Regions from separate parts of the Homo sapiens genome. Here all the other regions are linked to region 2. Evidence: fine-mapped expression QTL. A gene starts in region 2. Each other region holds a variant in brackets. All regions are shown on one strand. Distances are from middle to middle.

What was found.
Region 1: its variant is fine-mapped to the expression of MEF2A in monocytes (TOPMed, PIP above 0.99).
Region 3: its variant is fine-mapped to the expression of MEF2A in whole blood (TOPMed, PIP above 0.99).

The regions. Positions count from the first base shown.
Region 1 is chr15:99,473,225-99,475,983 of GRCh38, forward strand. No RefSeq gene overlaps it. Among named protein-coding and RNA genes, the nearest start is that of LINC03080, 39 kb to the left of the region's middle. RefSeq lists enhancers at 1,100-1,776, 1,777-2,452 and a silencer at 1,880-2,174. The variant T/G (reference allele first, on the strand shown) is at 1,208.
Region 2 is chr15:99,564,399-99,567,157 of GRCh38, forward strand. It overlaps MEF2A (myocyte enhancer factor 2A), which reads left to right and starts at 1,586. Exons shown (of 12, transcript NM_001319206.4): 1 at 1,586-1,706. RefSeq lists silencers at 757-1,196, 2,037-2,086 and enhancers at 908-1,883, 1,884-2,759.
Region 3 is chr15:99,613,844-99,616,602 of GRCh38, forward strand. The region is part of intron 2 of MEF2A (myocyte enhancer factor 2A); the gene reads left to right. Among named protein-coding and RNA genes, the nearest start is that of MEF2A, 49 kb to the left of the region's middle. RefSeq lists an enhancer at 1,311-1,360. The variant G/A (reference allele first, on the strand shown) is at 1,247.

The DNA.
Region 1 (2,759 bases), 91 kb before region 2:
GCAGTGGCGTGATCTCAGCTCACTGCAACCTCCGCCTCCCAGGTTCAAGAAATTCTCTGCCTCAGCCTTCTGAGCAGCTGGGATTACAGGCACCCACCACCACACCCAGCTAATTTTTGTGTTTTTCATAGCGACGGGGTTTCACCCTCTTGGCCAGGCTGGTCTTGAACTCCTGACCTCGTGATCCACCGGCCTCGGCCTCCCAAAGTGCTGGGATTACAGGTGTGATCACCAGGCCACCGCGCCCGGCCAACTCTTCTCCTTTCTGATAAGTCCTGGGGTGGCCTTGGGGCAGATGGTCCCCAGCGGCTGCGCGCACCAGGTTTGCAGATCGAGGCACCAGCACTGTGCATGCTGTGACCAGAGGCCTGAGGACCACCCTGCATTCGGTGTGTGTAACCTCTAAGCAAAGACTTTACCTTTCATTGGGAGCCCCATGCAAATCACAAGCCTCCAGAGGCACTTATTAAGTGCCCGTTTCTTCTTTATCTACTTAGATGCTAGACCAAAGAGCTACATTCTAAAATTTCACTGACTGATTTATATCCTGCTTGTTCCCAAAAAGGACGACAATAAAACCACAGGTACAGTATGGCCAGGAACATTTAACCAAGACAAAGGAGGGGAACAAAGGCAGAGAATTATGCCTAGCCTCAGCCTTTCAGGAAAGTAAAATCCAAGATTTCATTCTCCAGGTGTCTTTAAACTTCCCCAAGATGTAAGGGCGACTTCCTTTTCTTTTTGTAAATCTCCTCCAGCCGCATTGGAAAGGCAGCCCGCGCTTTGTGATAAGCGTGGGAGGCCTGTTCCCACTAAGAGGAATTATTCTGTTGCAGGATGGACTGCTGCGGCCATGCAGGCTGAGGCTGGCTTTTTTTGCCCAGTCACTTGACAGCCTTCAGCCCAGCAGCCCTACCCTCTTGGCCGCAGCCACAGAAAGCCTGGGCAGGATTGTGTTTCTCAGCTGACTCTGCACACTGGTGACAGATTGTCCAAGCTGTGCCCTGGCCCGGGTTTGCAGAGCTTCCCCATTTCCCTGTGGATACAAAGGTGAGTGACCAGAGTGAGCCCCCATCGCAGGCCATCGTGCCTGGCACCCTGGGACGCCCAGATGAGTGAGGAACGCTGTGCCCTTGGAGGAGGCAGACACAGCCCCAAATAGTGTCAGGAAGTGAAAGGGGAAGGGAAGGGGGTGAAAAGTGCTGAG[T/G]GTGGGCTTTTCGGGGAGCTCCTCTGGTCAGCAGGGTTCCTCCAGGAGCCCAGGGCACAGGGACACCCAGTGGATGGGGCCACTGGGCCAGCATTGCCTACGCAGGAGAAAGGCAGGAGGGGGCCTTGTTTAAGCTCTGTCCCCTTCTATGGCTCTCTCTCAACCTTAAAAACAGGAGACACAAAACCTTCCCTTTGTTTCTACCATTGGAGCATAACGAAATCTGTGATGAGAGCTGGGGCTCAAGCCATTCCGCGGCTGTGACCTCTTGTTTCATGGCCGTTGCCCGAAGGCGCAGAACGTGGGGCTTGAAATTTTGTTCTGCTGTCTGCTTCTCGGCTTAGTTTCTTTGGACTTCTCTGAGTCTTGTTTCTCCCTGCTTAGAAAAAGGTGATAAACGATAGCCACTATCTAGGATATGGAAATTCAATAAACCTATGAATATACCGATAAAAGAATCACATATACGTACAGTATACGCATACACTACATTGACATATGCATGTGTGACTATACACACCACACCTTCTGCACGCCCCCCCCGCAGAGCCTGGAGTGCCCCTGGCCGTGGCTCCCTGGCCCGAGTGTGACTCAGATCCTTAGGGCAAGGACAGCTGCCCCTGTCCCCGGTGGGCCTGCCTCTCTCACCCCCACACTCTGACCCACTCCAGGCTGACAGCAGCTGGGGCCCCCTGGGATGGGCCAGAGCTCCGGCAGCTGCTCCTGGATGGGAACTTGGAGGCCTGACCATGGACGGAGTGCTCCCTGTGCGGGCCCCGGACCTGGAACGCCCACTTGTGAAACCCCAGCCTGCTGACCTTCGGGTCATGGCGCAAAGTGAAGCCTGCCTGTGACTTGGAGGCAGGAGGGCGACTGGAGTGGCGGGAAATGATGGCAGCCATCTGGCTGTGCTATTTACCCTGGCTGCGAAGCCACCCTCCTCCAGCTCTTCTTTTCCCTTCCCTTCAGCATCCTCGCCCCAAGCATACTGCCACGCCCACTGACAGCGATCAAATAATAACAGCAGCAGCGACATGTCCTGAGCTCCCACTGTGTGGGGTGTGCATTCTCCCCTTTCTTGTCACTCTCCCTGGGTCCCTCCTGCCTCCCTGGCTGCACCTCTTCAGTCTTCTGTGCTGGACCCCTCGTCTGCCCAGCCCTGGCCTAGCTCACTGACGGCCGTGTGGTTCTGGCCTGAACCAAACTCTGTCCTCTGCTTGGTTTTCACCCACCACTGGACGTGCTCTAGAGGCACAGGGCTGTGTTGACTGTGTAATGTCTAGAACCTAAGCGCCAATGGGGTGGCCTAGCCCTGGCACAGACGCGATACCCAGGAAATGAATGAGTGCATGAAGAAACAGAGGCTCAGAGAGGGCGAGTCACTTGTCCAAAGCCACAGAGCTGGAGAGTGGTGGAAGGAGGGTTCAGACCCCCTGTCCGGAGGTCCCCTTCCCTTGCCCCACCACCTCCACAAGGAGTGCCTCACCTCTACTGTCAATCACTCTCTACTTCCCCTCCCTCCCCACCCCAGATAGCATTACCTAGGGGCACC
Region 2 (2,759 bases):
CTTTGTTTTGGGCTCTCCCCAGCACATTGCCCCGTTGTCCTTGAGGGAGGAAGCCAGCCAGTCTCTGGCTTCCTTTGTAACTTCCCAGTTCCTCCACTCACAGCCTCTGCTCATCTGCTCACCCACCCCAACCACTTTGTTTTAAGTGCTGCGGGATTGAATTTCTCATCTTCAAATGCAAACAACCATTTGGCTTCGTGTCCATTACACAGGCACCTCTGGGGGCACATGCAGGCACTGTGGCCCCGAAAAACTCTTCAGAGGTGAGCGGCTTTCAGGATGAGAGGGCCAACAATGGCTCATCTCCTAAAGACCTCGATAAACATAATCAGTAGCCCCAGAAAACACAACAGCTGTCCCAAGCCTATCCCCTTTGCACCTATCTCAGAAAAGGCAACATGCAGAGTGGTCAGGAGTTCAAGTCCTCAGGGCCCTACTCTGAAGCTGTGACCCTGACAGGTCACTTTAGCGCTCAGCTTCCCTTTCCTCATCTGTAAAATGGGAATAGAAACTGAATCTGCTTCATGGGGCCTTGTAAGTATTACATAAGCTGTCATATGCAAAATGTCCATCACATAGTTCACCGCCCCAGGCATCCTAGAAACTATTAAGTCACGATAAGGAGGTTGCTACTGTCCTGGGACCTGGGGAGCTCGGCTGTCCAGTCCGAAAGGGCCTTCTCGCCCTCGAGACCCCTTCAAGTCCCTTTCTCTCCGGGCCCGGGTCCCAGAGTCCCCTTGTGCTTGCTCCTGAGGGTGACCTGCCCGTGCCCCGGGGCGAGCACAGGTGCGGCCCTGGCCACAATGCGGGCGTGGCGAGCCGACACCCGGGGAGGCCAAGGGCGCCTCGAGGGAGGGAGGGAGGAGGCTGACCCGGGCGTCCCGAAGGACCCGCCCGGCCCCGGACTCCGGGCGGCAGCCGGCCTCGCGCCCCGCCCCCGCCCCGGGAGCCCCGCCCAGTCCCGTCGCGCCGCGCCGCCCCACCGCCCGGGTTGGCTGCCCTGGAGGCCACGCGCGGCGATTTGCCACGCGCCGCGTCACCGGGCCGCTCCCGGCCTGGGCTCCCGGGGGCTGGTCAGGGAGGTGGCGGCGGCTGAGCGGCGGAGCGGGGGCGGCAGGGCGCGACGCCGCCGGGCCGCCCCGCCCTGGGAGGCGCCCGGGCCCTCATCAAGTGACCAGTATCCCTTCCAGGGGAACACGGTCCTTCAGAGGAAAGCGAGCTCCAACCCGCGGCCCCGGCGCCAAGCCGCCGTCATCTTCTTCCTGTGCCAGGTGATCGTCTCCTCACCCACCCGGAAAAACATAGTCCGCCCCCACGTCCTTGTGGAATAGCGCCCGCTTCCAAGCACCGTGACTCTCTTTGCCCTACCCTTGTCTTTCCCATTCCAATTACTCTAGAACCCACCGAGAGGATAATTCAGTCCTGAAAAGAAACTGATGGGGAGAAGCGAGGAAGGGAACCCAGGAGGGAGGGGAGGCAGGGCTGCGGAGGGACACCGAGGCGGCGGAGGTAGTGCGCACGCGCAGCACAGAACGAGTTCCGGTCTGGCCGAGGCTTGTCTCCTAAAAATAGCCCCGGTGTGGGGATCCGTGCGCGGATGTCCCGGCGAGTCCCGGGCTGAAAGAGGCGGCTCCGGGCGGCGCGAAGCGCTGGTGGCGGGCCCGGGCTGCGGCGTGTGCGCGCCCGCCAGCTGCTCCGGAGATACGGTGAGGGCCGCGGGCAGCGGGGCTCAGTCCGCGACGCCGGTAGTGCTGGAGGGGGGCGGCGTCTCGCTTAGGGGACCGAGTAGGGGTTGGGGTGGAGGTGCTGGGGCGGGGGACGGCGCGGCCGAGAGGGTCGCCCGGGGGGCTCCGGGGACCCCTGGACGAGGCCGTGTCCGGCTTGGAGGGGGCCAGGGTCGCGTTCGCGCATTGGCGGGGCGGGTAGGGTGCTGGGAGGCGGGTAGGGTGCTGGGAGGCGGCGAGGGGTGGTCGGGTCGGGGTCGGCGCTGAGGAGCTAGGCGCCCGGGGAGGTGGGGGCGGGGTGCCCTGAGGGCGGGCCGGTGGGGCTGGATGGGGCTCGGCTGGGCGGGCCGAGGGGAGCTCAGTCGCGCGGGCTGGTGGCGAGCAGCCTCCCCGGGCGCGCACCCCTTGGGGCCGGGGGGCGGTGGTGGACGTCGCCTCCTTGAAAGTTGAAGGAGTTCTCGGGAGACCCCGGAGAAGGTGCGCTCTGAGGGCCCTTTCCTTCCCCTTTTCCCTCCAAGCCCGGGGGTCTCCCCGAAGGGATTAGCCCCAAGTGCGGGGGGCCTTCTGCCCTGTTGGACTTGAAGAAGTTCCCCCACTTCTGCTTTGGGAGAAGATTGGTCTAACGGGGTGGAACGCTTAGGTACGAATTCTGTGAGTGTGTAGATGTCAGTGGCGGGGTCGGTGTTTGGGGCGGACACCTGCGGTTGCGGACGCCCGATCGTGCGGGGAGACGTCGCGGGGACAGAGGGGCTGCACAGGGAACCGCTGGCTGAACCCCTGCCATCCGGCTAGATCCCAGCTCGCAGAAAATATTTTTTGTGTTAGAAACTTTGCTTTTTGGCTCGATTTCATGCCTTTGAGCTGTGAGGGTTAAAGTAAGTGAGATAGTGCAAACAAGTTTGGAAAAGGTGAGCAATCCTGAATAAGAAAACAGTTTTTCTTTAAAAGTGTAACTATAGAATTGTTGCTCACATCCGAAATAGATTCCGGAGCTGTGAAGCGAGCCTCCTGTTATGGTCCAGCAGGGAACCGTGT
Region 3 (2,759 bases), 49 kb after region 2:
CCTTGTGCAGCCATACACAACTTAGTAGAAATTGTTTTAATATTCTACTACTGAAAAGTACCATAAACTCATGAAATTGGGGTTAGATGGCTCCTTGAAGGTTTTATCACATCAGTGGCATTTTTAACCACTATTTAAATAGTTCCGGTGGTGATAATGTACTGTTATGGAAAAAGACATGATATTAGGGCCAAAATTTCAACTCTGCCTCCTAGTGTGACTTTGGGTGAGTACTGATTGTTTTTACTCGCAGTTGCTTCATTTAGAAAGTGGAACAGATGCCATCTACCTCACAGGGTTATTGTTACTGTTACATGAGATAATATATATTAAGGTCTAACACAGCTACTGATAAATGTAGAAGATATTTAATAAATATTAAGTTACCTTCCCTTCTGCAGTTCAGTGAAGAATAACTTCTTTTTTTTTGGAGATGAGGTCTCACTATGTTGCTCAGGCTGGTCTTGAACTTCTGAGCTCAAGTGATCCCTCACCTCACCGTCCCAAAGTGCTGGGATCACAGGCGTGAGTCACCGCGCCAAGCCCAACAATAACTTATAACTCCAAAAAATTGGTTCTTAGAGAATGTCCAATAGCCTGGGATTGTGAAATCTCATACTTTGACTTTTGCTTTCATTTGTTAAGCAACTATGGTAGCAGCTGAGGTTATAGGAGTAAATACAACAGACTTGATCTTCTCCCTTGGTTACAGTTTGGTTGGGGGAAAAGAAATCAAACATTTAATTGTATAAGGAAGTAATTACAGTTGAGGTAAATGCCATAAGAGAGAAGTACAGTCTGTTAGGAAAGTGCATTAGAAATCCTAACATAGTTTGGATGTTAGGGAACATTTCCTTGAGGAAATAATGGTAATACTGAGACACAAAGGATGGGTAGGACTGTCAGTAAGGAGAAGGGCTTGGGATAAGAGCTACTGAGAGAGAGCAAGGTGGTAGTATGTATGAAAGCCCTGAAACAGAAAGGAGTTAGGAGCTTTCTAAGTACATAACAGCTTGTGTCAAGAAGCTTGCTGGGCAAGAGGAAGTGTGGCATGGAATGAGGAGTTCCATGAGTAGAGGAGTGACAGGATAAGGCAGAGCCTTACAGGCCATGTTAAAGGCTTGGGCTTTTAAGAACAGTGATAAGTGACATGATTATATTGGCACGTTAAAAGGTTGCTGTAATGAAAATGAGGAAATTGCACTGGAGGGAAATAAAAGTGCCTGCTGAGACCAGTTAGGGGGCT[G/A]TTGCAATGCTTAGGGTAAAGGTGAACAGTGGCTGGTACAGAAAAGGAACAGGCTTGGTGTGTTTGGTTTAAGAAAATGTTGGGTTTTGAGATACCTGTAGGGTATCTTAAGTTGAGTAGTTGAGAATGTGGTTGGATATAGCCAGTTAGGCTAGTGAGGTAGCTCTGGCTGAGGCCTTTGCAGTAGGCTGATAAGCTGAGTTTCTGGTATTTGTCTTTTATGCAGACTTAACAGCAACTTGAGTGCATGTGTTGTGAGTATTTTTATACTCATTATTTTACAGTTTTTAATATTAAGTAATGATTATCACTTAAGTAATGGGTATTGCATTATTTTACAGTTTTTAATATTAAGTAACGGTAATAATAATGGCCAACATTGAGCACATGTGCAGATTACTAGGCCAAATACTTCATATGTGTTATCTCTTAATCTTTACAAGTTTATGAGCTTTATTATTAGTCCAGTATTTTAAAGATTTGGCATCTGAAGCTTAGAGAAATTGAGTAACTTCTCAAGGCAACCCATGTAGTAAGAGGTGGAGCTGAGGTTTGAATGCAGGCGGGCATGCTGCAGACCCTGTCCTGTTAACCATGTTAACCACTACCGTATGCCACTTCTCTGTGAAATTTGAACCAACCAGACAAACCAAACAGAATGACTGAGGGACCATTTATTAGTGAACTTTTATGGAAGACCTGTGTATACTACACGTTGTACTATAGGTGATTTGATACAGTCTCTTATTTACATCAACATTCACATGGCCTGTGAAGTATGGTTTTTGCCTCATTTTAAAAATGAAGAAACTGTGGCTGAGCAAGTAAGTGACTTGGTCAAGATCACTAATAGCTATTTAGTGGAACTTGGATTCAAAATGGACTCTTCTGTGTTATACTACTTAAAAATAAAAACTGTGTTGACTTAAAAATAAGAAAATTTCGCTGGGGAACACAATTAGATTTAGTGGTTCCCATATATCAAGCCACAGTCAGACTAGTTCTTAAAAAAAAATTAGATCTCAATGTTTAAAATTATAGATTGAATTTAGAGAACAAACAGCTGAGAAAATTGAGATACTTAAAAATAAATAATAGGTATTTTACGTGTATACAAAGTAAAGACTTTATTAAAATTATTTTAGAAAAGATAAAATGAGAAAATATTTTCTAGGAAATGTGTATCCATTTTATAATATCTGCGAATAGGTTAGACAAAATTACAATATTGATGACTGGGTTTTTTTTGTCAATAGTTAATTGTTAGCATTTGTATAGGACTGCATCTTGATCTTGCTGTAATCACTCTGTCCTTTAAAATTTCTTCTGTTTCTTCCTTAGTTTTGAGAAGACAAATGGAAATTAAGTCAATGAGGTAACATATTATAATGCATCTTAAATATTGGCTTCTTTTAGCATCAGAGTTAAGACTCATCTTACCAGTACTTTCTACTGCCTACTAAAAATTAATAAGAGGCAATTAAGCATAGTATTAACAGTGTAGCTCCTTTGG